2 separate regions of the Homo sapiens genome follow, and region 2 is linked to region 1. Evidence: fine-mapped expression QTL. A gene starts in region 1. The other region holds a variant in brackets. All regions are shown on one strand. Distances are from middle to middle.

The links.
Region 2: its variant is fine-mapped to the expression of CORIN in whole blood (TOPMed, PIP above 0.99).

Annotation. Positions count from the first base shown.
Region 1 is chr4:47,829,899-47,846,239 of GRCh38, forward strand. It overlaps CORIN (corin, serine peptidase), which reads right to left and starts at 8,169. Exons shown (of 22, transcript NM_006587.4): 1 at 7,989-8,169. The coding sequence starts at 8,051. LOC101927179 (a long non-coding RNA gene) reads left to right here and starts at 1,447. Exons shown (of 3, transcript NR_125881.1): 1 at 1,447-1,610.
Region 2 is chr4:47,908,073-47,924,413 of GRCh38, forward strand. It overlaps NFXL1 (nuclear transcription factor, X-box binding like 1), which reads right to left and starts at 6,511. Exons shown (of 23, transcript NM_001278624.2): 1 at 6,293-6,511; 2 at 5,897-6,133; 3 at 2,752-2,922. The coding sequence starts at 6,131. LOC101927157 (a long non-coding RNA gene) reads left to right here and starts at 6,155. Exons shown (of 3, transcript NR_125879.1): 1 at 6,155-6,632. RefSeq lists enhancers at 5,379-6,065, 6,066-6,751, 6,262-6,491, 14,660-15,159. The variant A/G (reference allele first, on the strand shown) is at 7,385.

The DNA.
Region 1 (16,341 bases):
ACAAGTAAACCAGGATCTAAAAGGTTAACTGACTTCTGTAAAATCTCAGCAACCTAATACCAACTTCTTATTGAACTCCCCTTTCTGATGATGCTTGACTTGGACAAAACTGTTTTAAAGGATGACAGAGAAATAGTAAATAAAACAATATAGCTTTGATTTCCAAACCACACTACAGAGAAGTAGCATCTTGCTCCCAGAATAAGGCTCTAAAATAGGCACATGAAGATGAAAATCATGTACTGTCAAACTAATCCCTGAAAAGCCTTAAGAGAGTGTCACATTGGAGACCAATGTAACTTCCAACAATAAATCCCACATGGTGTTTGTTTTTTTTTTGTTTCAGAGCTGGAACAGGCTCATCGGTTGAGTACCAGATTAATTAATTGGCTTGAGGTTAGGGAATAAAATGGCACAATCTTTAAACCCAGGATCACACGTGGAACTGCAAAAAGGATACACATAAAAGGCACCAGGTTCTGAAACTAATGGCAGATTCCTTTCTCTCATCTTTTGCTCTTACTCCAGGACACTGAATAGAATGACTCATATTAATTAAACATTCATCTCTCCTCCCTGCACTCATGGTTTAGGGTTTATTGCTTAGTTAGAAACCAAGCTTCACAAGTGCATGAATCCCTGTTTTGTTCATAGATGTCTCCTAAGTGCCTAATAATATACCTGTCACATAAATGTTTGTTAAATAAGGAGATGAATGTATTCTTTTTGTCCAGCCTGTATAGTTGAATTCTCATACATTAAAGCTATTTAGGTCTAGCTATGGCTTTCACTTCTTGGGAAGTTGTGGTGCTATTACCAGAAAAATTCAAACAGAACTATGCATAAAAAGATTTTTCACCATTCAGGAGGTTCTTGGAGTCTCAGATTAAGATTTCCTGGTACTGTCAATCTCTATCTATGACACTTCAGCAGAATGACACTTTTGTGGCTTCAGAGACACTGACACCTACTTTCATAGCTGCATAGGACTTTAAAACTCCCCCAAAGTGCTACAAACAAAAAGTACTCTTCAAGTGCTGTCAACCTAAAGGTTAACAGGTTGAAGGGACCCTGGGCTAAGGAAGCACAAGCTGGAGACACCAAAATGGTCTTCGCAACTCGCCTCTATATTTTCTGCCCTGCTCCTAAGCCAGCCTGTTGGCCGACTGGCCCTTCTCCACAGATGTCATCTTGAGCCTCTTACAGAGTTTCAGCACTGACATTAATGACAAGATGGATCACCTACAGGACAACCTTGGATCCTCAACCAGCCTGATTAAGCATTGACACTGCATTTGTCACCACCAGCTCTGATGGTTTGGACATGTAGAAATGTATTGCAGGAGAATATGCAAACAGCTGCTGTAAGGTGAGCTGATCGGGACAACTGCCAGCAGGCAGAAGGGAAGGCATAATTAATGGGCACCCTTCAGCAGAGCTCAGAGCAGACCAAACGCCAATGCAGAAGGCTCAAGAAAGAGGCAAACAGACTAGCCACTGCTCCAGGATGACTGTGGCTCTTTATGAGTGAAGAGAAAGGGTGGAGACTGAAGACAGAACTGGGGACAGTGACAGGCTTGGGGAAGAACAGCTGATTCAGCAGTCCCAAGGTGAGTCATCCCATGTGTTCCACACCCAGGTAGAAAGCGCTCATTAGCAGAACATAATCTCCCAACCTGCATGATGATCGTCTGTCCATGAGAATAATAAACATTACAGATTGTGCTTGCACTAAAGCAGATTTAGTAAAGCCTCAGGAACAGAATATACTTCATGGGGTAAGAAATCCAGCTAGGGAAAAGACTGACCTATCTATGCATCTGTAATGGGTTGAATAGTGTCTCCAAAATATATGTTCACCGAGAACCTCAAAATGTGTCCTTCCTTTGCATATAGGGTCTTTGCAGTTGAAGTTAGTTAGGACAAGGTCATACTGGATTAGGGTGAAGCCTAAATCCAATATGACTGATGTTCTTATAATAAGAGAACACACAGAAACACACACCAGGAAGGCCATGGAAGTAAAATATATAGTTTGTCAAATGAGGATGAGTTCAAGAAGGGGTCCTACGTAGTGAGGTGGAGTATTAGTTTTTAAGCCTGATTAAATTAAACACTTGGTGGATCTTTCCCCCAAACATTGTACTTAGTATTATAGTGCTTTCATTCTTGTAAAAAATGGTACAACATGTAGGAGTACATATGGAGGGAGAAGAGCCTCCTTCTGTTGTATTAGTTTCTGCTGTAAAACCAGGAAAATCATCGGCCATAAAGCTCATAGGGAGGGAAAAGAACAATACATAAGCAAAATCATCAAGGCTGAAGGGGAGAACTCAGAGGATTATGTGACTAATACTCACTTGTCAGTGATTTATACATCAATCTGGCCATTTACTATTCAACAAATGCCTAGGCCACGTAAGAGACCTCAACAAACGGAAGTGATTCTGCTATAGGAAACCACTTCTTAAAAGAAAAAGAAGCAAATAGAGGTGCTTTACAGGAAAACTTTTTCTTTTCTTTTCTTTCTTTCTTTCTTTTCTTTTCTTTTTTTTTTTTTTTTTGAGATGGAGTCTCGCTCTATCACCCAGGCCGGAGTGCACTGGGATGATCTCGGCTCACTGCAGCCTCTGCCTCCCGGATTTAAGCAATTCTCTTGCCTCAGCCTCCCAAGTAGCTGGGACTACAGGCAGGTGCCATCACGCCCTGGTAATTTTTTTGTATTTTTAGTAGAGATGGTGTTTTGCCATGTTGGCCAAGCTGGTCTCGAACTCCTGACCTCAGGTGATCCATCTGGCTCAGCCTCCAGTAATCCCAGTGAGCCACTGTGCCTTGGCCTAGGAAAATTTTTATCATCCTAAAATCTTATATCATCACTCAAGCAAAAGAAAGCTCTAGAACTGCCTGAGAGAACAGCCTGCAACGAAGGAGATCATGTATCTGTGCTGCCCAATACAGTTGCCACCAGCTTTATAAAATAACTGAGCACTTAAAATGTGCCCAAGGAGACTGAAGAAATAAATTTTTAATTTGATTTAATGTTGATTAAATTTAAACAACCACAATTGGCTAAGAGCTACTCCATTGCATCACATGGCTCTAGAGTCACAGAAAGCTGCCTGTGGAAAAAGTCTTGAGACATTTCTCACCAAGTCTAGGATGAGACTGGATCCTCAAGTAAAAACAGATTAGGAAACAAATCACCAAAGCAATTACGAGCAAGAAAAAAAAAAGCTAGAGGTATCATACGTCATGATTTCAAAATATATTACAAAGCTACACTAATCAAAACAGTATGGTACTCATATGAAAACAGCCATATGGCCAAACAGAAGAGAGATCCCAGAAATAAACTCATACATACATAGTTGACAAGGATGCCAAGAATATACAATGGAGGAAAGATATGTCTTCAACAAATGGTGCTGGGAAAACTGGCTACACATATGCAAAAGAATAACATTGGAACTTTATCTCATGCCATGCACAAAAATCAAGTTAAAATGGATTAAAGACTTAACCATAAGACCTGAAACTGTAAAATTTCTGAAAGAAAACATAAAGGAAAATCTTGACATTGATCTCGGCGATAATTTCTTGGATACGACACCAAAAGCATAGGCAAAAAAAAAAAAAAAAAAGCAATAATAACCAAATAAGATTATGCTAAACTAAAAAGCTTCTGCATAGCAAACGATATGATCAACAAAATGAAAAGGCAATCTATAAAGTGGGAGAAAATATTTGCGAATCATATATCTGATAAAGGATTAATATCCAACATATATAAGGAACTCCTTCAATTCAGTAGCCAAAAAGCTAATAGCCTGATTTTAAAATGGGAAAAAGACCTAAATAGACATTACTCCAAAGAAGACATAAAAATGGCCAGTAAGTATATGAAAGATGCTCAACATCACCAATCAACAGAGAATTACAAATCAAAACCACAAAGAGATTTCAGCCCTTTGCCACTGTTAATGTGATCAAAAAACAAAAGATAACAAGTGTTGGATGCCAAGAAAATGCATCTCTTGTATATGGTTCATGGGAATGTAAATTGGTGCAACCATTATGGGAAAGAGTATGGAAGTTCCTCAAAAAAATTAAAAATAGAACTATCATATGATCCAGCATATGATACCAGCATACAGTATAGAACTAACATATGATCCCATTTCTAGATATGTAACCAAAGAATTTAAAATTGGGATCTTGAAAAGACATCTGCATTCCCATGTGCATTGCAGCATTATTCACAATAGCAAAAACATAGGAGCAGCCTAATGTCCACTGATAGATGAATGGATAAAGAAAAATGGGGTATATATAAACAGTATGTATATATACATACAGTACAATATTACTCAGCCTTAACAAAGAAACAAATCCTACCATTTCTGACAGCAGAGATGAACCTAGAGGACACTATGCTAAGTGAAATAAGCCAGACACAGAAGGACAAATACTACATGATCCCACTTAATTGAGGAATCTTAAAACAGTCAAACTCATAGAAGCAGAGAGTGGAATGGTGGTTTCCCAGAGGAGGAGGAAATGGGGAGGTATTGGACCAAGGGTATAAAGTTTCAGTAATGCAAGATAAATAAGTCCTAGAAATCTACTACACAGCATGGCTTCTGTAGTTAAGAATACTATATTCTATACTTAAAAATTTGCTAGGTGGGTAGATCTTATGTTAAGTGTCCTTATAACAAAATAATAATAACAATAATAAAGATGGCAGAAGGGAACTTTTGAAGATGATGGATAGGTTTGTGACATTAATTGTGGTGACGGTTTTATAGATGTATACTTGTTTCCAAACCTATCACATTGTTTACATTAAATATATACAGGTTTTTGCTCGCCAATACTTCAATAAAGTAGTTTTTTAAAAAAAGGTTAGGGAACCTTCACCAGAATATACCACTATTACATAAAGTACTTCTAGTACGTATTCCACAGTCTGCAGTGTCCTTACCAGTGGTCAGTAGTACCATCTACATTTTCTGACCAAGGAAACTGAGGCCCAGCAAGATTATTTGACTTGCCCAGAGCCTTGCGGTTCTTAAGGGGCAGAGTCAGAGGTCTGACACCAAAGCTCCTACTCTTCCCACCAAGGCAGGTCATCTACAGCACCTTCTACTCTTAAGGGGTCTGCCATTTCCACCCTCTCTGAACAGACATAAAACAAACAAGTGTATTATGTCTGTGTGTGTCTTTATGTGAGTGTGTAGACTCTGAGGAACAGGTAAGTCTTGGAATCCCTTGAGTGTTTAGTGTGAACCTAGTATGTTTAGCCAGCCAGTATCAGGTCAGTACCCTTTAGCCAGCCAGCCTCATTTTCCATTTGGTCCAGCAAAATGGAATGCCAAGAATAGTGATGGGGCTAACAGGATGCATGAATCCATACTTGTTGAATAACTTATTAGGTAGAAGTAGCAGGTCAAACAAACCTTTCCCCCTCAGATACGCTCAGCAACAATTCAGTGTTGCGGCTCTCCTGCTCCTCAGAGAGCTCTTATTACCCCAGCAGTGGGGACACTCAGAAACCCTAAGACCACAAGTCTTTGTGTTGAAAGAGGCTACAAGTGCGGAAAAGAGGAAAAATAAGGAAAGGAGTACCTCATTAACAGTATGGAGATTTGAAAGTACAGGCTTTTGAAAGTGACTCTCTGAAGCTCCTGGGCCACTCAGCTTCTCCTCTAACTTCCTGTCTGCCCCCAACAGTGGGGGAGGTCAACAGAGGGGCTGGCCAGTCAATAGAACTAGCAACTGCTGAAATCCACATGAAGCTATGGTGGAGAATGTGACCCTTCCAAAAGGAAACCACAGCTGGTTGTGGAATGCAAGATGCGGAAGCACTGATGCCTGCCTTCTATGCTGTTGCTATTGTGATTTCTGCAGCATTATGAGGAAGGTTTCTGATGGAATGAATTTTGCATCTTTTAAGAAAGTGTCTCTGTACCTGGATATGTGCTTGATAAGGTTAATAGAGCAATTCTTGGTGTGTCTTTTTAACCCACAGGAAGGTTAACAGAGGCTTTCATCGTTGGTCCTGTAAGCCTACCCTGAAAGGAACTTTCTGGAAAGAGTCCCCTCCCCCTTAAAAAATGCCTTATAGAATCTTGGGGTTTTGAGGTTGATGTGTTTCCACACCCAAATAACCCCAAAATAGTTCATCCTATTGAAATTCTTGGTGTCCTGGAAAGCATTCTATGGAAAACCTGCCTGGTCAGCCAAGCCCACACGTGAGTCTATGCAGACATCTCCTCTAACCTCGCAAGCCCCAGGAACCTCCTCTAACCTCTCAAGTCCCAGGATCTGAGGACCAATTTTTAGCACAATCTCACACAACAAACCTATTGGGCACCTAATAATAGAAACAAGCTAATGAATGTTTTGACTGTGACAAAAAAAAATGGTTTAATAACTTTTTATAAATGCATTGTTTCTTCTCATTGTCTCAGGGTTATGCCAAAATTAATTTCAAAACTATCTGCTTAAATGTGTCCTTGGACAATAATCACCAGTAAGTCCTGACTTCACCCCCTTTCTGGTAGCGGTCTGACGTTCCTTTGCAGAGTTTCGCTTCCATCGATAAGTTACTTTAAATAAAAAGTTAAAATAAAAACTAGAAGCCACAATTGTGCCTATGTCAGTCATCGAAGTCTTGTACAGGAGTCCGTCTTCGCAGCGCATCGTTCTCAGAAGTTTCCCGCGGGAGGAAAGCTCCACTTTATGAATTACTCGAACAGCTTCCCTGGGAATGCCCAGCCCCGAAGCTTCCCTGCTGAATTCAAAGTCAGAGCTCCCAGGGCTCGGTCCCAGGAACCGGGAGCCGTGCAAAAAGCGCGTACACTGCCATCCACTGGCCCCGAGCAGGTAGTAGCAGGAGTGAGGCGCCTGCCACGGGAGCTCAGGAACTGGGTCCCAGTAAGATCCGACAAGACACCACCTCCCTTCCGCCCGCACAGCCTGCCCTCTCTGCCTGCAGCTAGCGTCACCGGTCGGTCCCCGATTCGGAGCAGCTGGGACCCTCGCGGTAGCAAGCGGATTCCGGGGCCCTAATGACACCGAAGGAGAGGGGCAGCCGCAAATTAGACCTTCTTCCTGGGGGCTCAGGCCAGTAGGGACTGTCCGTGGTGCCCTTCCCTTTCTTTCTCCTCCTGAACGAGAGCCAACGCTGCCCCTTCCCAGGACTGGATCTGAGCCAACCAAATCCTACAGCGCAGAGCCTGCGCCCCCGGCGGCCAGCCCTCCTGTGCCTAGGCAGGTTCACGCCGGAGAAAGTTTGCACGCAGGGACCTACAAGTTCCCAGCACTCTGCAAGAGGGCCAGTTCTGGGATGCCAGCACTTAGGACGGGCGAGTGATCCCCAGGCACCAACTGGGGGCCGGGGAACCAAGCGCGAGCCCGGGCTGTGGAGGGACCGACACCCAGGCGCTCGCAGCTGGGGAAGGGGGCTTACGTCTGGGGCAGGCAAGACTGCTGCACAGTCCCTCCAGCCACCCGGCGCCCGAGACGCCGGCGCAGACAGGAAGCTGTAGATCCCCGAGGGGCTGGCTCCGACAGCTCCACCTGCAGCCTCCCCTGCCGCCAGTGTGCAGCCAAGTCCACTAGATGCTTGGAGGGCACCGTGCGGAGGAGGGACTCTGCAGGAAAGGTGGCATCACCCCCGGCATGGAGACCGGGGTCTCCGGATCGAGCCGACTCGAACACTGAAGGAAACCCTGCCCATGACCCTGGGAGGGTCTCGGACGCCGGGCGACCGGGGTGGTGGTCGGGACCAGGGCCGTGCGCCTGGGAACTGGGTGCAGGGCGCTGAGCGCGGAACTGTCAGAGCGGGAGCTCACCGGCGGCTGGGGAAGGAGGTGGCATCGGGCGGAGGAGAGGACGGGGGCGGGAGGGGCTGACCCTGAATTCACCGGGACTAAGAGGCCATCACACCTGGCTGCGGTAGGACAGCGAATCATCGATCTTACCGGCTTTGGGGACCCGGCTCTGCGGCAGCGCTCTTCCGGAGCGAGGGCAGGAGACTGTTTCATGGATAAAAAGTCTCGCTTATTCTTCTGTCCACTTTTATCTTGGTCGCTTTTCTCTCCTCTACGTGTCCCCCGGGGAGGCACTACGGATGATTTTCTCCAAGCTCAAGAGAGACAAACTGAACTTTAAGCGCCAGGGGCCCCATATTTTGTCTGCTCTACAGATCCCACCCGCGGGCCACACCCTCCCTTCACTCCCGTCTCTGGGTCCCACCCATAATAACCCGTAATGACAGATCCTCCGTGTCCCCACCTCTTTGCATTCAAAGAAGTTATTCTTCAGGGGCATATGGAAAGTCAGTTTCTGCTGGTCTCCCTCAAAAACTTACACTCCACGAGGGCAGCAGAAAAGGACAGGACGATTAAGTTTAAGTTGTGGAAGACTGGTTGGGAGCAAAAGAGTTACTTTTCTCCAAATTTGCCATATCACATCGAAAGCATTTTCTTTTAACCAGAGTGTAGCCAATCAAAATTAACTGCAGGCGCTGGCAATTAAAGAACAAGTTTATCTCAAAAAAGGTTTAACGTTTGGAGGCCATTATTTGCATCAGGCATATGGAAACTTGCGTTCTGTTAGGTATGCTGAAGAAACTGCTTTTGCCAGACTGCCTGAGTCTTTGCTGAGGCTGCAGGGACAAGGGAGAACCCCACCCTGACTGCTTCCAAAACCCTAGTTCCTGATTTCCTGCAGAGGGCACCTACAGGCTGAACCTAAAAGGCGAACAAATTCCTGCCTGTCATTCAAAAGCAGCTACCTTTTCTAAGGCAGCGTCAAGGAGGGCACTGGAGGTACTCAACACAGTAATGATTACTTTACCAAGTCCAAGGCAATTGTCAAATGTGGCAAAGAAAAACACTTCATTGGGTTTTTCTTAGAAATGATTTTTCATCCAATTTCAATCAAGATCTTAATGGAAATTTTGAAAATTACTCATGAGGTTATTTAATAAATCCATCCCCATTATTTAAAGAAAGCCATGTAAAGACAACAAAATATGGGCCAAGCACTTGTTCTTGAACATTATTGCTGAGAAAAAAATATGCATTTGTAAAATGGGGGGGGCAGTATTTTGTTTCTGAAGTGAGATCAAATGTAGAAAATATTGCATATGTATAGTAAAATGACTGAAACACTGATTCCATGTTATTCTAACATCCGATTTGTAAACCAGTATCTGACAAATTTATCATAATTCACAATAATTCAGTTCATATTATGTGGCAGGTGTCATACTAAGCACTTTACATGTATTCTTTCAGTTCCACCAACTACTCTGAGGAAGAAGCTATTATTTTTATTTTAGAGATAAGAAAGCAGATTCAGGGAGCTGAAGTGAAGTAACCAGCCTACGCAAGCTAGCAAGAAGCTGAGCTGGGATTCCCCCGAGGCAGTGACTTCTGGATTGTGTTCTTACTAAGATACTACCTCATCACACACCATCACCGCAGTGCCAGTCTGGGAATCAAGAACTGTGAGCAAATCACATAGTCTTTCTGGGCCACAGTTAACTCAGCCTATAACATAAGGGCTGGATTCAATTGCTAAGGTTTCTACAGGCATTCTGAGGCCAAGTACAAGTTTCTATTTCATCTTCTTTCTCTTCCACTTTCTGCCCTCTGGTGGAGGTGCTACAGGGACTATGAAATTAAAGTAGCTACGTCAGTGGATTTGAGATAGGGTCGATCAGTCTCCCTCACTTTTCCACTTTTAGTTCCTCTGAGAACTAAAGCTAATTGCATTAATGGTGTAAAATAAACATTTTTTAAACTTCCTTTTAGCAAGAAAACCCAACCAGTTCTAGTTACCAACAGCACCAGAATTAATACCTGAGGTATTCTTTGCATGAAGGTAATGACATAAAAAATGAGGGTAAAGATGTTTTATATTCTTTATAATAAACTTTTAAAATGTCAAGAATCATAAACTATTAGAAGTCTCAAAACATATTCAAACTGATTTGAATATGCAGTGTGCTCATTAAAATGTCAAGAATCATAAACTATTAGAAGTCTCAAAACATATTCAAACTGATTTGAATATGCAGTGTGCTCATAGTAATCTTTAATGACCTATTTGAATTATTCTTTAAAAAAAACTAGCTACATTTGCATTTCAGCTTCAAGTGACAACCATCATCTAGTTTCTTAAAATAATTTTACAAAAAGAAACATTTCTAGCCTATTGAAACTTTTATTGTCTAGCACTTCAAGCATACATCCAACTAGTTAGATAATTTAAAAGAAAACACACACAAACCTTGAAGAGATTTATGGAAAAATTAAAGATATTGAATATACCTCAGGAAACGGTGATTTTACAGAGCAAACTTCAGCCACATATCACATTACAGATCAAATTAGTACTTAGTACTACAACTGAAGACAATTTAAGAACAAGAAGAGATCACGGAGAAGCAAGCAGCATCCCAGGATGATAACAGGCAAGCAGTAGCTAAAACAGATATGCTACCCCATGGCTCATCTATTTAGCTATTCATTCAACTAATACTTATTTTGGGTTTGCTGGCTGCCAGATGAACAACCTAGACAGAGTTCCTGCCCTCACCAAGACTTTCAGTCTTGTGGAATGTATTAAACAAATACACAAACATGTAAACTATGAAAAAATACTTGCAAATAATGTGAGAATAGCTTTGGGGAGTTAGAATGTAATATTTTCAGCTGAGATATAAAGATACAAAGCCTTCAAAATAAAAAAAATTAAAAACAGCAAGAAAAAGGTAAACTGGAAATTTACCTGTTGCAGAGAGGGGAGAGTTTATTTAGTCAAAAGGGGGAAAACAACATACCCATATGTACTATAATACACTCTAGCCCATTGATATATTCAGTATCTGATAAAACAATTTGTGTAGATCTTCTGTTTGATGTACATAATATTTCTGGGACATCAATCCCCTACTCTAATATACCACAGTAGTCATTGGGAAGGAGGTAATATATGACCCTGTAAGAAATTTCAAAGGAATTTTATTTTTAGTCCTCTCACACATCTAGTGCTATAGAGGGGTCCCATAACTGCAATTTCACTGCCTAAATATGCCCCTACCTTTGGCCAGCATCCCACCCAGTCCTCCCTCAATGACGTGGAGCTCCCTCAATGACATGGAGCTCCCTCAATAACAGTAACCATATGTGCAAAAACTGAGATGCCTCACCTCACCTCACCTCACATCTGATGCCTCAGATTTTTTTTCTGATTTGTGAATCAATTTGAGATGTCTTAAAGTTATGAGGTAAAGTCACATATCTATATTATTGTAGCTAAGCTATTCTATGTACTATGTGCCAGGCACTTCATAAAGTGACATATAATTTTCTAGGTTTTTCATTCTTGAAACAAATCTAGTTTCCTTTGTCATAAAATGAGAAGTGTAATAGGCTCACCTAATACGGTTGTTATGAGGATTACATATAGAAAGTGCTTTAAAATAGCTATAGACACATAATAATAGTTAAAACTTATTGGGCACTTACTGTTATTTCTTATTGTCACCATTTTACAGAAGAAACTGAGGCTTACAAAGTTAAATAGCTTGCCTAAGAGCTCACAAGTAGAAAGTGGTAGAAGCAGAATTGGAGCCTAAAAAATCTGGGACCACAAACTAATCCTTATGTTCTGTAGCAGTTATTAAGAGAAGACTGTGATGAAAACATCCAAGGGGTTTACAGCTTAGAATACACTCTGAATTTTCATTCACCCAATAAATATTTACTGAGCACTGTAGTAGGTTAGTGTCCCCCCACTACTCCCTGCCAAATTAATGTCCACCCAGAACCTCAGAATGTGGTTCTGTGGAAATAAAGGCTTTGCAGATATAATTTGTTATATCTTGGTTTGGGACTTCTGGCCACCTAAACTGTGAAAGAATAAATTTCTGTTGTTTTAAGTAACTCATGTATGGTATCTGTTACAGCAGCCCTAGGAAACGAATACTAGCATCTACTATGTGGCCAGGCTTCTCTACTCTGAGGTTACAGTAATAAACAAAACTGCACTCCTGCCCTCATGAAGCTTACATTCCAGGGAAGGAGGCAGATAATAAACAGACACTTAATATGAGGACAGGTACTATTTAGTGCTATGAGGAAAAAGTATTGTGAGAAGATAGAGGATGACCAGATGACAGTGACTGGGGGGGGGGGCTTTGGAAATATTAGGTGATGTATTAAGAGAATACATATATGGGATACAGAGGTGTTAACTCAAATGAATCTGGACTGTGGAGTTTCAAACTGCATACAATCCTTCACAGCACGACTTAAATTACTAATTGGAAACTTAGCAAGAAGAGAAGCTTAGTAAGCAATAGACCTGAGCTTGTTCAATAAGCCAAGATTCTAAAATATGTAAAAATGGCTTCCCAGGTGGACACCTGGTCTTGCTTGTCTCTTTAAGTTGCTGGAAATCACAGGGTCTCTCAGTTCCTCCCACCACTCCCAAATTCTCGCATCTTTTCTAGGAGGTAGTAGCTAGTACTTTGCTTCTTCCTCACCCTGGAAGCTCCCCAGCCTCATAAGCCTTGGGTCTTAGAGTGGTCTAATCACTGCCACTCGATAAAGACTGCAACTTCCACAGACCCAAGAAGAGACAGAGCTATCTCATGTCAACTCTAGCTCTACAGCTTAGACATCTGCTTCAGTTCCCAATATCCAAGGACAGACAGACATTAACAGCTAGAGTCACCTGGGTCCTCAGAGGTTCTTTTTACAGCCTTCCTTTTACTGTCCTATACCTGGTCACAGCAATTTTGGCTACTGCTGCATTTTTAGTGTTCTTGGTTTAACACCCAACTAATTCTTTGTTCTTCTGGAGATCAGCATACAGCATCTCCCATTGTTTTAATAATCTTGATTATAAAAGGATGGATGAGGCCCAAGCACCCTAAAAAGTCACCCTTGGCAGTGGGCTAGATCCCCCACATGGGTGGCCTGGCTTAATCTTCACCTGTTTGCTTATGTGGAAGAACCCACAACACAGACCATATGCATAGTGAGGACAGAATCTTCTATTAAGTTCATCACTGTGCCAGGTATCTAGGCAAAGAAAAAAAATATTTCTCAAAGAGAAATGGAACACTTTAAAATAAATCTCTTCAAATTTTGTCTTAAATAGTATATCTATTTCCAAATAAAGCCTGTTTCTGGTATTACTCATGAGCATTTAAAATAACATGAAGAGCCAAAAAATTCTTATATGTCATCTCTCTCTAAACACTAGCACAGAGATTAATCTGTATTTAAAATTTTTAACCTTCATAGCCATTAAGTTCAAGCATCATAACTTCTTTATAGAAGGGAAATGTTTTCACTGCTTTGCCTCAGCAAAATTCCTTTGACAATTTCAGTAGCAATTGTACTTATTTGAGATTGTTTTCATTTAATTTAGATGTGAAATTAACTGAAAAACAGTTTGTCAATTCTGAAAAGCATTTAAACCAAAAAAATCTAAAGATTTCAATATACATATTCCACAGATTTCAAATAGGAAGCTCATACACTTTGTTAATGCCACAAGTAAGGAGGAAAACAAGACCACCACATTCACAATCTTAGGCCATTGTTAGTGGCTATTTGGTAACTTTTTCCATTCCTTCTCTAATTCGCTCAGATTGAACCTAAAAGGACAATATGCATTACTTTATTTCCCTCAGAACAAATCAGTATAACTACTTAGATAAAACTTAACTTGTCTCTGCATCATTATAGTCTTTTCTCTATATCGTAGCCAGCGGTCTTTAAAAAAAAGTCTCTTCCTTGTTTAAAGCCTTCCAATGCTGTCCATTGCAACTCAAATACAACTCAAATTTCTTACCCTGGTCTATCAAGCATGACATAAACTGGCCTAGACACATCCTCCTCTCAATTTAAATTTCATTAGGCTCCAGCCACACCAGCCCTTCTTTCTGCTCCTCAGGTGTGCCAAGCATTTCCCAAACTGGGGACTTTGTACTTACTGCTTTCTCTCGTATAGATTTTTCGCTGATCTTCAAATGGAGGTCATTCAGGTCACGGCTCTAATATCCTCATCTCAGAGGGATTTTCCCATTCTAAATTAGCCAGTGTCCTTGTATCCCCTACTTCCACCACATTCTATACCATTCCTCTTATTTTCTTGAATACCACTTACCACACATAAAATCACGTTTTTTTATGTCTATTACCTGCCTGTGCTTGTCTGTGCCTTAGCAACAATATAGGAGGAAAGATCACCATTATCTCCAGAACACAGAAAGTTCCTGACATATAGGAAACACATCTGTTGACTGAATAAGTGAAGGAATAGTTGTGTGACTTTGGGTAAATAAGTTACACTCTGAGCTAGCCAAAAAGATGAAAAAACAACAAACAACTTCATATACCATTCATTCAGTCTCCTTCCTCTGCTCCTAAATTCTTTTCCCCAAATTAGGAAAAACAATTTAGCTAGTACCGAAGCCCTACAAACAACAGATATGAACTAGGTTTCATGTTCACTTAATAGGCCAAGATTCTGACACAGATGGAAATGACTTTCCACGTAGACACCCGGTTGTTCCCTTAACACTCAACTTTTAGTTAGTACAGGTAATAACTTGAGTGTAGTGTATCTGATTTAGAGCTTCTGAAATGCCAACCCTGTAATTCTACCACTGGGAAAGGTTAACAATTCTAAAATCAAAACACCCATGAAGAAAGGAATGACTGTCCTTTAATTCTGGACACCAGCTAATACTTAGGGCCAGGCGCAGAGGCTCATGCCTGTAATCCCAGCACTTTGGGAGGATGAAGTGAGCAGATCACTTGAGGCTAGGAGTTCGAGACCAGCCTGGCCAACGTGGTGAAACCCCATCTCTACTAAAAATACAAAAAAAAACAAAAACAACAACAACAACAAAAATTAGCCGGGCTTGGTGGCACATGCCTATAATCCTAGCTACTTGGGAGGGTGAGGCACAAGAATCACTTGAACCTGGAAGGCAGAGGTTGCAGTGAACTGAGATCATGCCACTGCACTCCAGCCTGGGCAACAGAGCGAGATTCTGTCTCAAAAAAAAAAAAAAAAAAAGAATATGACACTAAATTTTGAATTAGATCCAGCATAATTTTAAAATCCTTCCTACTTCTGCAATCAGGCAGGAGAAGGAAATAAAGGGCATTCAATTAGGAAAAGAGGAAGTCAAATTGTCCCTGTTTGCAGATGACATGATTGTATATCTAGAAAACCCCATCATCTCAGCCCAAAATCTCCTTAAGCTGATAGGCAACTTCAGCAAAGTCTCAGGATACAAAATCAATGTGCAAAAATCACAAGCATTCTTATACACCAATAACAGACAAACAGAGAGCCAAAACATGAGTGAACTCCCATTCACAATTGCTTCAAAGAGAATAAAATACCTAGGAATCCAACTTACAAGGGATGTGAAGGACCTCTCCAAGGAGAACTACAAACCACTGCTCATTGAAATAAAAGAGGATACAAACAAATGGAAGAACATTCCATGCTCATGGGTAGGAAGAATCAATATTGTGAAAATGGCCATACTGCCCAAGGTAATTTATAGATTCAATGCCATCCCCATCAAGCTACCAATGACTTTCTTCACAGAATTGGAAAAAACTACTTTAAAGTTCATATGGAACCAAAAAAGAGCCTGCATTGCCAAGTCAATCCTAAGCCAAAAGAACAAAGCTGGAGGCATCATGCTACCTGACTTTAAACTACACTACAAGGCTACAGTAACCAAAACAGCATGGTACTGGTACCAAAACAGAGATATAGACCAATGGAACCGAACAGAGCCCTCAGAAATAATGCCACATATCTACAACTATCTGATCTTTGACAAACCTGACAAAAACAAGAAATGGGGAAAGGATTCCCTATTTAATAAATGGTGCTGGGAAAACTGGCTAGCCATATGTAGAAAGCTAAAACTGGATCCCTTCCTTACGCCTTATACAAAAATTGATTCAAGATGGATTAAAGACTTACATGTTAGACCTAAAACCATAAAAACCCTAGAAGAAAACCTAGGCAATACCATTCAGGACATAGGCATGGGCAAGGACTTCATGTCTAAAACACCAAAAGCCAAAATTGACAAATGGGATCTCATTAAACTAAAGAGCTTCTACACAGCAAAAGAAACCACCATCACAGTGAACAGGCAACCTACAGAAAGGGAGAAAATTTTTGCAACCTACTCATCTGACAAAGGGCTAATATCCAGAATCTACAAAGAACTCAAACAAATTTACAAGAAAAAACCAAACAACCCCATCAAAA
Region 2 (16,341 bases), 78 kb after region 1:
CACCAAGGTTATGTGTTGGGAAGGGAAAGGTGAAATACATCGATCCTTCTGTCTGAAGACTTGATTAACTCTCAGCCAGGCACAGTGGCTCACGCCTGCCACTTTGGGAAGCTGAGGTGGGAGAATTCTCTGTAGCCAGGAATTCAAGACCAGCCTTGACAACACAGGAAAACACTGTCTCTACAAAAAAATTCTAAAAAAATTAACCAGGCATGGTGGTGTGTGCTTGCAGTACCAGCTACTTGGGAGGCTAAAGCAGGAGGGTCACTTGAGCTCAGTAGTTCAAGATTGTAGGGAGCTATGATCACATCACTGCACTCCAGCCTGGGCAATAGAAGAAGACTGTCTCCAAAAAAAAAAAAAGACTAACTCTCATGCTCTTTATTTGCGTTTATGCTAACTAATGCTCAAACTCTGCTATGCTTCTGATTCTGTCATACTAACTAACAGGCCTGAATCCTGGCATCACTGGCCTTATACTTCTCATGAAAGCACAAGATAATAACTAAGGAACACATTAGTATAGTGTAGATGGAGAGAGCTTAGGATGTGGGGCCTTATGATCAAGGGAAGACATGACTGAAAAAAGAAACAAATTTTTGGCCTGGCGCAATGGCTCACGCCTGTAATCCCAGCACTTTGGGAGGCCGAGGCGGGCGGATCACGAGGTCAGGAGATCAAGACCATCCTGGCTAACACAGTAAAACCCCGTCTCTACTAAAAACACAAAAAATTACCCGGGCATGGTGGCGGGCACCTGTAGTCCCAGCTACTCGGGAGGCTGAGGCAGGAGATTGGCATGAACCCGGGTGGTGGAGCTTGCAGTGAGCTGAGATTGCGCCACTGCACTCCAGCCTGGGCGACAGAGTGAGACTCCGTCGCAAAAAAAAAAAAAAAAAAGAAACAAATTTTTTAAAAGAAAGCAGCAGTTACGATAGAAAATCTCTAATAATCAAGCCACAAAATACATTAAACATTCCAGCAAACAGATATACAGCACAGACTACACAACAGGCACTACTGTAAGCACTACAGTACTTACACATACTGATTCATTTCATCCTAACAACTCTACAGTATTTAGTATCATTATACCCATTTTACAAAAGAAACTAAGCCCCTAAGATGCTAAGCAATATGTCAAACATCCTACAGCCAAGTAACAAAGCCAAGAATCAAACCGTAGCAATCTGATTCAAGTGTCAATGTTCTTAACTGCTGTACAATGCTGCTTTTTCCCCATAAACAGGTACAAAAGTAACCGTCTAGTCTCCTCAGAATTTTCCTGCTTTTACAGAGAAAATGAAATCAGCCCAGTAATGGCTCTAAAGCTAAGTCAACTAGGTTTAAACCCAGCTCTGCCAATTACTAATTGTCTAACTCTAGGAAAGTCACCTCTCCTCTGTAGAATTGTTTCCCAAAATATTTGTAAGGTTTTTCCTGGTTTTAACAGTATACTAAAGTAAGAAAAAGAACCAAGCAAGGGCATAAATATATATTACTAATAAAAGGTATATAAACAATATGACATATCTACAAATATATTAATAAATGTTGACATTACATGCAAAAATATTTCTTTCTTTCTTTTTTTTTTTTTAATTGAGACGGAGTCTTGCTCTGTCTCCCAGGCTGGAGTGCAGTGGCGCAATCTCAGCTCACGGCAACCTTCACCTCCCAAGTTCAAGCAATTCTCCTGCCTCAGCCTCCTGAGTAGCTGGGATTACAGGTGTGTGCCACCATGCCCAGCTAATTTTTTTGTATTTTTAGTAGAGACGGGGTTTCACCATGTTGGCCAGGCTGGTCTCAAACTCCTGACCTCAAGTGATCCCCCGGCCTCGGCCTCCCAAAGTGCTGGGGTTATAGGCGTGAGCCACTATGCCTGGCCTACATACAAGAATATTTCTAATAATAATTTTAAAGTATAAAAGGCAGAAAGTTTAATAATATTTACATTTAAAATAATCTATTTTTACACTTAATACTAAAGTGGTACACAGCAACATCACTTTGGCCCTCTCTCACATAAACAAACGTGGCTTTAAGAGCAATCAGATATAAACCACAGATAACACGAATGTACATGTCAAACCTGAGGAAATTTAGGTTTTTTAAAAAAAGTACGGCTAGGTGCAGTGCACATGCCTGTAGTCTCAGCTACTCAGGAAGCTGAGGCAGGAGGATCACTTAAGCCCAGGAGTTGAAGACTGCAGTGAACTACGCACCACTACGTACCACTGCGCTCCAGCCTGGGCAACAGAACAAGACCCCAACTCTAAAAATAAATACATGAAAATCAGATGTTGTAAATAAGATATAAAATAAGGAAATAAAGAATTAAAAAGACTTCAAGACGCATTTAACATGATGAAAAAAAATGAATAGATTGAAAGGAGTACACAAAGTACTCTAGTTCAATCAAATCATCACAACCAGAAAAAACTTGCCCCAGTCCACCGCTCAGGAGCTTTAGCAGCCCCATCCAAGCATTCTACTGAAATGCCAATTAAATACACACAAAGGCCTCCTAAGGCTATAAAAGAGCCACTGCCATTCTATTTGCTTTATAGAAAAATTAGTGTTACACAATATATAACTCAAATACCAAAGTGTACAAAAATTCAACTCTATAACATACAGTGCTCATCTTAAGATATAAAATCTATTCCATATAGAACAAAGGCATTACCAAAAAAATGTCAGGAATACAGTTTCATTGACGTCAAAAGTCAAAATTTAAAAGATCAGTACCTGTCTGAGTAGTGTATGTTATAAACGTATTTGCAAGTATTTTTCCCTGTTTTCCTTCAAAATCTTCATCTCCTTCTTCAGATGAAGAGCTAAACTGTTCTTCAACAAGTTTTCTGGCTGCAGCTTGGTTAGCTTTCTTGATTTCTTCAAATTTTTTCTGAGACATTAGCTCTGTTTAAAAGAAAAAAGTTTCATTTCTGCAAAACAATCTCTCAAAAAGAAAAGCATAATGTGCTAATATATCATTTTACAACACACATTTGAAAGTCACCTTTGGAGCATTCTACCTTCCTGTAATCCACGAGAAAAGTATTTTCAAATTCCTTGACACACAACTAAAGAGAATACCACAACAAAAACTTTCACTTTTCTAAGTATCCTGCTAAAATGCAGCAAATTTTTATGATAACGGTGATTAACAAATCAAGAAAAAAAATATGAAAATACAATAAAACTATCAAAATACTGGTGATCAACTTCAAAATAAGGACTAACAAAAATTAAGATGTTTTAAAGTACATTGTGCACAGTAATTTTTAAGAAGTGAGGGAACATGTCCACAGTGAGCACATAAAGAATCAGGGAAGGTAGGTATTTCAAACTACCGTCTTCTGAACAACAGGTAGGATAGGACACGACGGCCCAGCCCAGTCCAGTCCAGCCCTACCAAAGAGTTTGTACCAACAGTACTCACTATGCACCCACTATATTTACAATCGGCTTCTTAGGTCAAGAACTTTTTGCCTTTATTATGGACTTCTTGTGGTCACACAAAAAAACATATTTTACATTAATCCACACAAAGTATTAACATGGAAAACATGTTTCTTCCAACTTCATTCCAAAAAGAATGTTAATTTTGGATTCGTTCTTCCACTATTCAGCACTACCTGTACTTCTCATTTTGTTACTTGATTAATCATGCAAAACAAAACCAGATTACTTCACTGCACATACTCCCAAAGAAACTTCAAACTTCTTGAGAGCAAGGACCACAGGGATTTTCTTCAAGCACTAAGTGTTAATAAGCTCTTACGGACAGCAAACATAGTTTAAGAAAGGAGCCACAAACCTGCAGAACTGATCTGAGTTCATGAATTCCCATCTTGAGAGGATTTTAAATTTACTGATTGACTATTTTAAAATTAACATTATACTTAAAACTGATAAGCCACTACCAAGATAAGCTCTCTTATCTTGGGTGGTATATTCGTACTTGATTATGTTCCCTCATGAAACATTTTCCTTTTCTTATTGCAGCCAGTTTGGTTAGGGGTTATTAACAAAACAAATTGAGTATTTCAAGTAAACCTCGACGAAAATGTGTATCATGCTTACCTAGCAAGCTTTGAGTACTGGGAAAAAAGAACTGGCTATGAGATATATAACTCAAAACTTGTCACAAAAGAGATGATAAATGTCATTAATATACGGGAAATTAGCACTTAAAAGATACATAAGAAAACAGGCTGAACTGGACAGAGATAATGAGAACATTCATAACCTGATAAATGTATTCACCTAACATCATCTCAAAGTAAAGAGAAGCTGACAAGACAACCTTCTCACGTATTATTTCTTACAGCCAAATCTCAACTGTCCAGGTAGAGAATGCTTGTTTTCTTTTTCTTTTCTTTCTTTTTTTTTTTTTTTTGAGACGGAGTCTTGCTCTGTCGCCCAGGCTGGAGTGCAGTGGGGCAATCTCGGCTACTGCAAGCTCCGCCTCCCGGGCTCACGCCATTCTCCTTCCTCAGCCTCCCGAGTAGCTGGGACTACAGGCGCCTGCCACCCCGCCCGGCTAATTTTTTGTATTTTTAGTAGAGACGGGGTTTCACCCTGTTAGCCAGGATGGTCTCCATCTCCTGACCTCATGATCTGCCCGCCTCGGCCTCCCAAAGTGCTGGGATTACAGGCTTGAGCCACCGCGCCCGGACAGAATGCTTGTTTTCCTTCTACCCACGAGATGGAGACCATCCTGGCTAACACGGTGAAACCCCGTCTCTACTAAAAAAAAAAAACCAAAGAACAAAAAACAAAACATTAGCCAGGCGTGGTGGCAGGCGCCTGTAGTCCCAGCTACTCGGGAGGCTGAGGCCGGAGAACGGCCTGAACCCAGGAGGCAGAGCTTGCAGTGAGCCGAGATTGCGCCACTGCACTCCAGCCTGGGCGACCAGCGAGACTCTGTCTCAAAAAAAAAAAAAAAAAAAAAAAGTTTACCAAACCTGTTCACACGTCTCCATATTGTATACCTTATCATCACGGCCATTAACTGCATGCTAAGAGAATACCACCTACCTTTCAAATTAGCCTAGGAGAAAAATCATTCAAGATACTCAATTCTGCTCCACACCCCCCAAAAAAATGTATCCTGAAATGCATTCCAAACACAAAAATAAAATGATTTCAGGGATTATTCCCTCGGCCCCATGCACAATTGTGTGTAAGTCCTCCCTGGCTCCACGAAAACATGGTCTTGGATGAAAAGTATTGATATATCGGAGGCAACACCAGATATGTCCACAGAAGGACATGGAATTTGTAAATAGGAACTACAGTCAAGGAAGGTATCAAAAGCTCAAGTGCTTACAAGGAATAAGACAAGTCAAGAAACAAAGGCAAAGGTAAAGATGACAAATGACACCTGGCTCCAGAAATGAGAGAGAATGTGAGATGGAATGCCCAAGTCCAATCTAAATGGGATTTCTGTGACTCAGCCGAGCTGACTGTTGCCATGCACAAAGATAACTAAAGCCACAAGGTTGTTAACCAGATTTTTAAAAACGACAAACAACCGCTGACAATCAATCCACATTTAAAACTCTGTGTTAACCAAACAACATTATAGACCAAATCAGAACACCGGGCCACAATTTACAACTGATGGTCTGGAGATTCAAGTAGGCAAGAGTGGAGGGAAGTAACAAAGGTAATACCACCTAAAATTAAGATGAAAGAGGTGCGATGGAAATCTACCTAGAGTGCCGAAAAGAGCAGCCACCCGAAAGGCTGGAGAAGTGGGCCCGATAACAAACTCCCGAACGAGGGGAAAAGCAGTGAAAGAAAGAAGGCGAGGGCGGAGGCGGTCCTGACTAGTAACTGCCTTAGGAGGCATCCAGGTGAGCACGCGGGCGGGAGCCATTCTCACCGCTGGCTGCGGTAGTCTGCAGGGCTTGGGATCCTGCGGGGCTGTGCCTGCTCCCTGCAGCCGCCGTGGTCGCGACTCCTCCGGGACTGGTGCCAGAAGGAACTGCGCCCACCGACCCCTTCTCTCGCCCTCCTCCGGCGCCGCGGAGATGGACTCCATTTCCTGAGGGGGCGGCAGTGGCCCGTCCCCGGGATCGGCCTCGGCCACCGGCCACCTGGCGCCAGGAAGCTTCCATCCCTGCAAAGGAGAAAAAAAAAAAAAAGAGTGGAAGGAGGTGAGCGCAGCGAGGACCGAGGCGAAGGAGGGTCAGTGCGGAAACCCGGTGTGAGGGGCCGAGTGAGGAAGGTTCCTGCAGGGCGGCGACCGGGTTTTAGGAGGTCGCGGCCCTGCCTTTACCGGAGGGCGAGTCCCCGCCAAGCCCGGGCTTTGGAGATGGACCGAAGAGGGGAGGGAGGACTAGGTACAGAAATAAACCGCGGAGCAAGAAGCACACAGTGCCGAAGACAGAAAGCCGGAGGAGAAGTCGAAACCGCCTCCTCAGCCTCTGCGGGAGCGTGGTAGGGGAAGAGTCACAGACTGACCCTGCGTCTCCCGCCGGGAACCAACTGCAGTGGTACACCCCACGGAAAGCTACGTCTCCTTACCGACTGCGCACGCCCCCAACAGACTACAACTCCCAGAAGCCCCCGCCCGCGTTCCGGCGACTGCGTGGCAGCACGGGCCGCTTCCTTATCCGGTAAAGTGCGGGGGTTGGGTGGGAGGGAAACCCCAAGCGCCTGCGCTGGCCCGAACAGGCCTTTGGGAACTACAACTCCCGGCGTGCTCTGGGGCTAGGGAGGGGTCGAAGGTCATAGGGGCGCGTGGTGGTGGAGGCGGGCGGGTCCGGAGGGTTTCGTGACCCCACAATTTGCTTCTGCTTCTGCAAGACTGCCCTAAACTCACCTGGGTATGAGGATTACATGGCTCTGTCCCTAATTGGCTCTCTGCCATCTTTTATTAGCCTTGCCTTTGAGCTTGCGGATGACAGGAGGTGTCAATGTAAAATAATCAAAAGCGCGAAGTTTGAGGATAGCCTACCTAGAAACACCGACTCCAAGGAAGGAGTCAGCGTTCCGAAGTAGAGATTTAAGATTTCACTTATATAGGCAGAAACTGAGAGGTTTTTTAGCAGGATTACAGCATTTTCTCATACAAGGTTAGAGAATAGTTACAACAATTTGATTATAGACAGTGTTTCTTTTTGGGAAGTGTACATTTAACATTTTTCATAAAGGATTTTCTGTCATCTGGTCTAAGCAAACCGGGGCAACAAAGCAGAAGTTAATCTATAAGGATCATTAAGAAGGCAGGAAGTTTTTGTCCTTAACTTCGTTTAATTCTCTCTAGCCATTGTATAGAACAAGAAAAATAAGAAAGCAAGTTAATCTATAATCTGAGAAACAGAAGTTGTAACCACGTGTAACTCAGATGACAGTCACATCTCTCTCC[A/G]GGCTTAGTGAGTTTTAGGCTCCAACAACCTTTAAACTATTTATTTTCATAGGGAAGTCTCACTAACAGGAAAGGCACTTACATTGAAAACGCTTTGAGGTTGGCCACTGTGAAGGAGGGAAATTCGGGGGAGAGTTGCAGGAAAGTGGCTTGAGTAGTAAAAGTACCCTTCTAAAATGCTAGAGCCAATGTAGAAAATAAATCTAAAGCCTGTTATTGTCATAGTCCTTTGTAGTGTGCAATGAGCTTTCCCTGGGACATGCTAATTTTTACCTTCACAGCATCTCCCTAAAGTAGATTTTGTTAAGGAAAATAGTTGAGGGCCAGGACCTAAATCTTATGATTTTGCTGAGTTTTCCAATAAGATACATGTGCATATATACTGACAGGTAGATTGCAAAAATTCATTCTGGGGTCTGTCTGGGATTGAGAAACATATTGATGGCTTATTGTACAGTCCTTCAACTTAGTTAATTCTTCTATTTTAACCATAAATTTCTATTATAATATTTAGATAGCATTTATTAGATGTCAGGCACTGTTTAAAGTGTTTTACGTTATGTATTAACTAATTTGGTACTCACAGTAACCGTGTTTATTATCCCCGTTTTACAACTGAGAACACTGAGGCACAGAGAGATTAAGCAATTTGCCCTTGATCATACAGCTAGGAAGTAGTGAAGCCAAGATTCAATCCTAAGTAGTCTAGTATTAGAAACCATGCTTTTAATGTCTTAAACATAGATATTGCAGAATTGCCTGTACATTAACCAAACTCAAAAATGACATCCCATGGCCAGGCATGGTGGCTCACGCCTGTAATCCTAGTACTTTGGGATGCCAAGGCGGGTGGATCACCTTAGGTCAGGAGTTTGAGGCAAGCCTGGCCAACATGGCGAAACCCTGTCTCTATTAAACATACAAAAATTAGCTGGGCATGGTGGTGGGTGCCTATAATCACAGCTACTAGGGAGGCTGAGGCAGGAGAATTGTTTGAACCCAGGGGGCGGAGGTTGTAATGAGCCAAGATCGCGCCACTTCACTCCAGCCTGGGCAAAAGAGCAAAACTCCGTCTCAGAAAAATGAAAAGAAGAAAAGAAATAACATCTCTGAGAATGATATAACTTCATTGGCTAGAAACTAACAGGTGCACAGCAACTCTCTTAATGCTGCACTTGTATAAGAACTGTAAGTTTAAAGCTGCAACCAGCTTTCAAAGTTTGAAAACCCTAAAGTGAGACTTTTCTTCAGTGGGGTTTTCACATACAGGAAAGGAGCTGTTATACTCTGAGAGAGAATATAGTAATTATCACTGAGTAATGTCCAAGAAGTATTGAGTGGCTACTAAAAAGAGAGATCCTTCTTAGAATTATGTTATATGCCAGAGAGCTGGACTAGCATATTATCTAAATTTCCATGTCAAACTTTATTGAGAAATTTTTTCTGTTCCCTCAAATATTCAATAGCTAATAACAGTGACCAGCAATCCTTGAGTGCTTTCTATGTGCCAGCATTCTTCTAGGTCCTTTTTTCTTTTACTCATCTAATCTTCACAATAACCATGAAGTAGGTATTGTTATCGTCAAAACAATTTTTTTTTATTATACTTTAAGTTCTAGGGTACGTGTGCACAATGTGCAAGTTTCTTACATAGGTATACATGTGCAATGTTGGTTGGCTGCACACATCAACTTGTCATTTACATTAGGTATTTCTCCTAAAGCTATCCCTCCACCAGCCCCCCACCCTGCAACAGGCCCTTGTGTGCGATGTTCCCCTCCATGTGTCCATGTGTTCTCAGTGTTCAACTCCCACTTATGAGTGAGAACATGTGGTGTTTGGTCTTCTGTCCTTGTGATATTTTGCTGAGAATGATGGTTTCCAGCTTCATCCATGTCCCTGCAAAGGACATGAACTCATCCTTTTTTATGGCTGCATAGTATTCCATGGTGTATATATGGCACATTTTCTTTATCCAGTCTATTATTGATGGACATTTGGGTTGGTTCTAAGTCTTTGCTATTGTGAATAGTGCCTCAGTAAACATGCCTGTGCATGTATCTTTATAGTAGCATGATTTATAATCCTTTGGGTATATACCCAGTAATGGGATTGCTGGGTCAAATGGTATTTCTAGTTCTAGATCCTTGAGGAATCGCCACACTGTCTTCCACAATGGTTGAAATCATTTACACTCCCAAGAACAGTGTGAAAGCATTCCTATTTCTCCACATCTTCTCCAGCATCTGTTGTTTCCTGACTTTTTAATGATTGCCATTCTAACTGGCGTGAGATGGTATCTCATTGTGGTTTTGATTTGCATTTCTCTGATAACCAGTGATGATGAGCATTTTTTCATATGTCTGCTGGCTGCATAAATGTCTTCTTTTGAGAAGCGTCTATCCATATATTTTGCCCACTTTTTGATGGGGTTGTTTTTTCTTGTACTTTTGTTTAAGTTCTTTGTAGATTCTGGATATTAGCCCTTTGTCAGATGGATAGATTGCAAAAATTTTCACCCATTCTGTAGGTTGCCTGTTCACTCTGATGATAGTTTATTTTGCTGTGCAGAAGCTCTTTAGTTTAATTAGATCCCATGTGTCTATTTTGGCCTTTGTTGCCATTGCTTTTGGTGTTTTAGTTATGAAGTCTTTGCCCGTGCCTGTGTCCTGAATTGCATTGTCTAGGTATTCTTTTAGGGTTTTTATGGTTTTAGGTCTTACATTTAAGTCTTTAATCCATCTTGAGTTAATCTTTGTGTAAGGTGTAAGGAAGGAATCCAGTTTCAATTTTCTATATATGGCTAGCCAGTTTTCCCAGCACCATTTATTAAATAGGGAATCCTTTCCCCATTTCTTGTTTTTGTCAGGTTTGTCAAAGATCAGATGGTTGTAGATGTGTGGTGTTGTTTCTGAGGCCTCTGTTCTGTTCTATTGGTCTATCTCTCTGTTTTGGTACCAATGCCATGCTGTTTTGATTACTGTAGCCTTGTAGTATAGTTTGAAGTCTGGTAGCCTGATGCCTCCAGCTTTGTTCTTTTTGCTTAGGATTGTCTTGGCTATGTGGGCTCTTTTTTGGTTCCATATGAACTTTAAAGTAGTTTTTTCCAATTCTGTGAGGAAAGTCAGTGGTAGCTTGATGGGGATAGCATTGAATCTATAAATTACCTTAGGCTGTATGGCCATTTTCACGATATTGAGTCTTCCTATCCATGAGCATAGAAGGTTCTTCCATTTGTTTGCGTCCTCTTTTATTTCGCTGAGCAGTGGTTTGTAGTTGTCCTTGAAGAGGTCCTTCACATCCCTTGTAAGTTGTATTCCTAGGTATTTTATTCTCTTTGTAGTAATTGTGAATGAGAATTCACTCATGATTTGGCTCTCTGTTTGTCTGTTCTTGGTGTATAGGAATGCTTTTGATTTTTGGACATTGACTTTGTATCCTGAAGTTGCTTATCAGCTTAAGGAAATTTTGGGCTGAGACAATGGGGTTTCGTAAATATACAATCATGCCATCTGCAAACAGAGACAATTTGACTTCCTCTTTTCCTAATTGAATACCCACCTTTATTTCTTTCTCTTGCCTGATTGCCCTAGCCAGAACTTCCAATACTATATTGAACAGGAGTGGTGAGAGAGGGCATCCTTTTCTTGTGCCAGTTTTCAAAGGGAATGCTTCCAGTTTTTGCCATTCAGTATGATATAGGCTGTGGGTTTGTCGTAAATAGCTCTTATTATTTTGATACGCGTTCCATCAATAACTAATTCATTGAAAGCTTTTAGAATGAAAGACTGTAGAATTTTGTTGAAGGCCTTTTCTGCATCTATTGAGTTAATCATGTGGTTTTTGTCGTTGGTTCTATTTATGTGATGAAATATGTTTATTGATTTGCGTATGTTGAACCAGTCTTGCATTCCAGGGATGAAGCCAACTTGATGGTGGTGGATAAGCTTTTTGATGTGCTGCTGGACTCGGTTTGCCAGTATTTTATTGAGGATTTTCACATGGATGTTCATCAGGGATATTGGCCTAAAATTCTCTTTTTTTGTTGTTGTGTTTTTGCCAGGCTTTGGTATCAGGATGATGCTGGCCTGATAAAATGAGTTAGGGAGGATTCCCTCTTTTTCTATTGATTGAAATAGTTTCAGAAGGAATGGTACCAGCAACTTTTTGTACCTTGGTAGAATTCAGCTGTGAATTCATCTGATCCTGGACATTTTTTGGTTGGTAGGCTATTAATTATTGCCTCAATTTCAGAACCTGTTATTGGTCTATTCCGAGATTCAACTTCCTCCTGGTTCAGTTTTGAGGGTGTATGTGTCCAGGAATTTATCCATTTCTTCTAGATTTTCTCGTTTATTTGCATAGAGGTGTTTATAGTATTCTCTGATGGTAGTTTGTATTTCTGTGGGATTAGTGGTGATATCCCCTTTATCATTTTTTATTGTGTCTACTTGATTCTTCTCTTTTTCTTCTTTATTAGTCTTGCTAGCAGTCTGTCTATTTTGTTGAACTTTTCAAAAAACCAGCTCCTGGATTCATTGATTTTTTGAAGGGTTTTTTGTGTCTCTATCTCCTTCAGTTCTGCTCTGATCTTAGTTATTTCTTGTCTTCTGCTAGCTTTTGAATGTGTTTGCTCTTGCTTCTCTAGTTCTTTTAATTGTGATGTTAGGGTGTCGATTTTAGATCTTTCCTGCTTTCTCTTGTGGGCATTTACTCCTATAAATTTCCCTCTACACACTGCTTTAAATGTGTCCCAGAGATTCTGGTATGTTGTGTCTTTGTTCTCATTGGTTTCAAAGAACATCTTTATTTCTGTCTTCATTTCGTTATTTACCCAGTAGTCATTCAGGAGCAGGTTGTTCAGTTTTCATGTAGTTGTGTGGTTTTGAGTGAATTTCTTAATCCTGAGTTCTAATTTGATTGCACTGTGGTCTGAGAGACAGTTTGTTGTGATTTCTGTTCTTTACAATTGCTGAGGGTGTTTTACTTCCAATTATGTGGTCAATTTTAGAATAAGTGTGAGGTGGTGCTGAGACGAATGTATATTCTGTTGATTTGGGGTGGAGAGTTCTGTAGATGTCTATTAGGTCCACTTGGTCCAGAGCTGAGTTCAAGTCCTGGATATCCTTGTTAATTTTCTGTCTTGTTGATCTGTCTAATATTGACAGTGGAGTGTTAAAGTCTCCCATTATTATTGTGTGGGAGTCTAAGTCTGTTTGTAGGTCTCTAAGAACTTGCTTTATGAATCTGGGTGCTCCTGTATTGGGTGCATATATATTTAGGATAGTTAGTTCTTCTTGTTGAATTGATCCCTTTACCATTATGTAGTGGCGTTCTTTGTCTCTTTTGATCTTTGTTGGTTTAAAGTCTGTTTTATCAGAGACCAGGATTGCAACCTTTGCTTTTTTTTTGCTTTCCATTTGCTTGTTAGATCTTCCTCCATCCCTTTATTTTGAGCCTATGTGTGTTTTTGTGCATGAGATGGGTCTCCTGAATACCGCACCCCGATGGGTCTTGACTCTTTATCCAACTTGCCAGTCTGTGTCTTTTAATTGGGTCATTTAGTCCATTTACATTTAAGGTTAATATTGTTATGTGTGAATTTGATCCTGTCGTTATGATGTTAGCTGGTTATTTTGCCCATTAATTGATGCAGTTTCTTCATAGCATTGATGGTCTTTACAATTTGGCATGTTTTTGCAGTGGCTGGTACTGGTTGTTCCTTTCCACGTTTAGTGCTTCCTTCAGGAGCTGTTGTAAGGCAGGCCTGGTGGTGACAAAATCTCTCAGCATTTGCTTGTCTCTAAAGGATTTTATTTCTCCTTCACTTATGAAGCTTAGTTTGGCTGGATATGAAATTCTGCATTGAAAATTCTTTTGTTTAAGAATGTTGAATATTGGCCCCCACTCTCTTCTGGCTTGTAGGGTTTCTGCCAAGAGATCCACTGTTAGTCTGATGGGCTTCCCTTTGTGGGTAATCCGACCTTTCTCTCTGGCTGCCCTTAACATTTTTTCCTTCATTTCAACCTCAGTGCATCTGACAATTATGTGTCTTGGGGTTGCTCTTCTCGAGGAGTATCTTTGTAGTGTTCTCTGTATTTCCTGAATTTGAATGTTGGCCTGCCTTGCTAGGTTGGGGAAGTTCTCCTGGATAATATCCTGAAGAATGTTTTCTAACTTCTTTCCATTTTCCCCATCACCTTCAGGTATGCCAATTAAATGTAGATTTGGTCTTTTCAGATAGTCCCATATTTCTGGGAGGCTTTGTTTCTTTTCACTCTTTTTTCTCTAATCTTGTCTTCTCACTTTATTTCATTAATTTGGTCTTCAATCACTGATATCCTTTCTTCCGCTTGATCGAATTGACTCATGAAGCTTGTGTATGCTTCACGCAGTTCTCGTACTGTGGCTTTCAGCTCCATCAGGTCATTTAAGCTTTTCTCTACACTGGTTATGCTAGTTAGCCATTCCTCTAATCTTTTTTCAAGGTTTTTAGCTTCCTTGCGATGGGTTAGAACATGCTCCTTTAGCGCGGAGAAGTTTGTTATTACTGATCTTCTGAAGCCTACTTCTGTCAACTCGTCAAACTCATTCTCCATCCAGTTTTGTTTCCTTGCTGGCGAGGAGTTGTGTTCCTTTGGAGGAGAAGAGGCATTCTGGTTTTTGGAATTTTCAGCCTTTCTGCTCTGGTTTCTCCCCATCTTTGTGGTCTAATCTACCTTTGGTCTTCGATGTTGGTGACCTACGGATGGGGTTTTGGTGTGGATGTCCTTTTTGTTGATGTTGATGCTATTCCTTTCTGTTTGTTAGTTTTCCTTCTAACAGACAGGACCCTCAGCTACAGGTCTATTGGAGTTTGCTGGAAGTCCACTCCAGACCCTGTTTGCCTGGGTTTCACCAGCGGAGGCTGCAGAACAGCCAATATTGCTCCCTGATCCTTCCTTTGGAAGCTTCATCCCAGAGGGGCACCTGCCTGAATGAGGTGTCTGTGGCCCCTACTGGGAGGTGTCTCTCAGTCAGGCTACATGGGGTCAGGGACCCACTTTAGGAGGCACTCTGTCCATTATCGGATCTCGAACGCCATGCTGGGAGAGCGACTGCTCTCTTCAGAGCTATCAGGCAGTCACGTTTAAGTCTGCAGGAGCTATCTGCTGCCTTTTGTTCAGATATGCCCTGCCCCCAGAGGTGGAATCTCGGTAGGCAGTAGGCCTTGCTGTGCTGCGGTGGGCTCCACCCAGTTCGAGCTTCCCTGCCACTTTGTTTACACTGTGAGCATAGAACTGCCTACTCAAGCCTCAGCAATGGTGGATGCCCCTTCCCCCACCAAGCTCCAGCATCCCAGGTTGATCTCAGACTGCTGCACTAGTAGCGAGTGAGGCTCCGTGGGCATGGGACCCTTTGAGCCAGGCACAGGAGGGAATCTCCTGGTCTGCCGGTTGCGAAGACTGTGGGAAAAGCACAATATTTGGGCAGCAGTGTACCATTCCTCCAGGTACAGTCACTCACGGCTTCCCTTGGCTAGGAAAGGGAAATCCCCCGACCCCTTGTGCTTCCCAGGTGAGATGATGCCCCGCCCTGCTTCAGCTGTACCCACTTTCCAACCAGTCCCAACGAGATGAACCAGGTACCTCACTTGGAAATGCAGAAATCACCTGCAGAAATCACATATCTGCAGAAATGCAGAAGTCACATATCTGCAGAAATGCAGAAGTCACATATCTGCAGAAATGCAGAAGTCACATATCTGCAGAAATGCAGAAGTCACATATCTGCAGAAATGCAGAAGTCACGTTTCTGCAGAAATGCAGAAGTCACATATCTGCAGAAATGCAGAAGTCACGTTTCTGCAGAAATGCAGAAGTCACGTTTCTGCAGAAATGCAGAAGTCACGTTTCTGCAGAAATGCAGAAGTCACGTTTCTGCAGAAATGCAGAAGTCACGTTTCTGCAGAAATGCAGAAGTCACGTATCTGCAGAAATGCAGAAGTCACGTTTCTGCAGAAATGCAGAAATCACCTGTCTTCTGTGTTGATCTCGCTGGGAGCTGTAGACCAGAGCTGTTCCTATTCAGCAACTCCCCCATCAAAACAATTTCTTATTCAACATACTAGCAGAGCTAGGATTGCAAATGGGTAGTGTGACTCCTGGCCTATACTCTTAACCACCAGGCAAATGATGACTGTGTATATGCATTTAATGTTTACCTAGAAATTCCAGTTATTTTTAAAGTACCTAAACAGGGAAAGGGCTCATATAATCAGGATTTTTCCCCTGCCATATTATACAATTAAAAGTGATAAACACAATAATCACTTTGGAATCAGAAATAATCTTTTGTGCTCGCTGAGTGAGAAAACAAACATTTGTTGTATTATCATTGTAAATTTTTGCAGTGGAGAGCTAGTATAGATCATAAAGTGGAAGCATATGTAAGTTGAGAACACATTTTCAAAAATTACCATTGCTTCTACAAGGAGAGCTACGAAACATTGCTGAAAGCCATCATAGACAACATAAACAAATGGAAACACATTCCATGTTCATAGATTGGAATAATCAACATTGTGAAAAGGAACATACTGCCCAAAGCAATCTACAGATTCAATGCAATTCCCATCAAACTACCAGCATCACTTTTTCTCAGAAGTAGAAAAAACAATCCTAAAATTCATGTGGAACCAAAAAGAGCCTGAACAGCCAAAGCAATCCTAAGCAAAAAGAACAAATCTGGAGACATCCTATTACTGGACTTCAAAGTATGCTACAAGGCTATAGATATCAAAACAACATGGTACTGGGAAAAAAAAAAGTAGATGCATAGACCAATGGAACAGAATAGAGAATTCAGATATAAAGCCAAATACATACAGCCAACTGATCTACAACAAAGCATACAAAAACATAAATTGGGGAATGGACACCCTATTTAATAAATGATGCTGAGAAAACTGGAAAGCC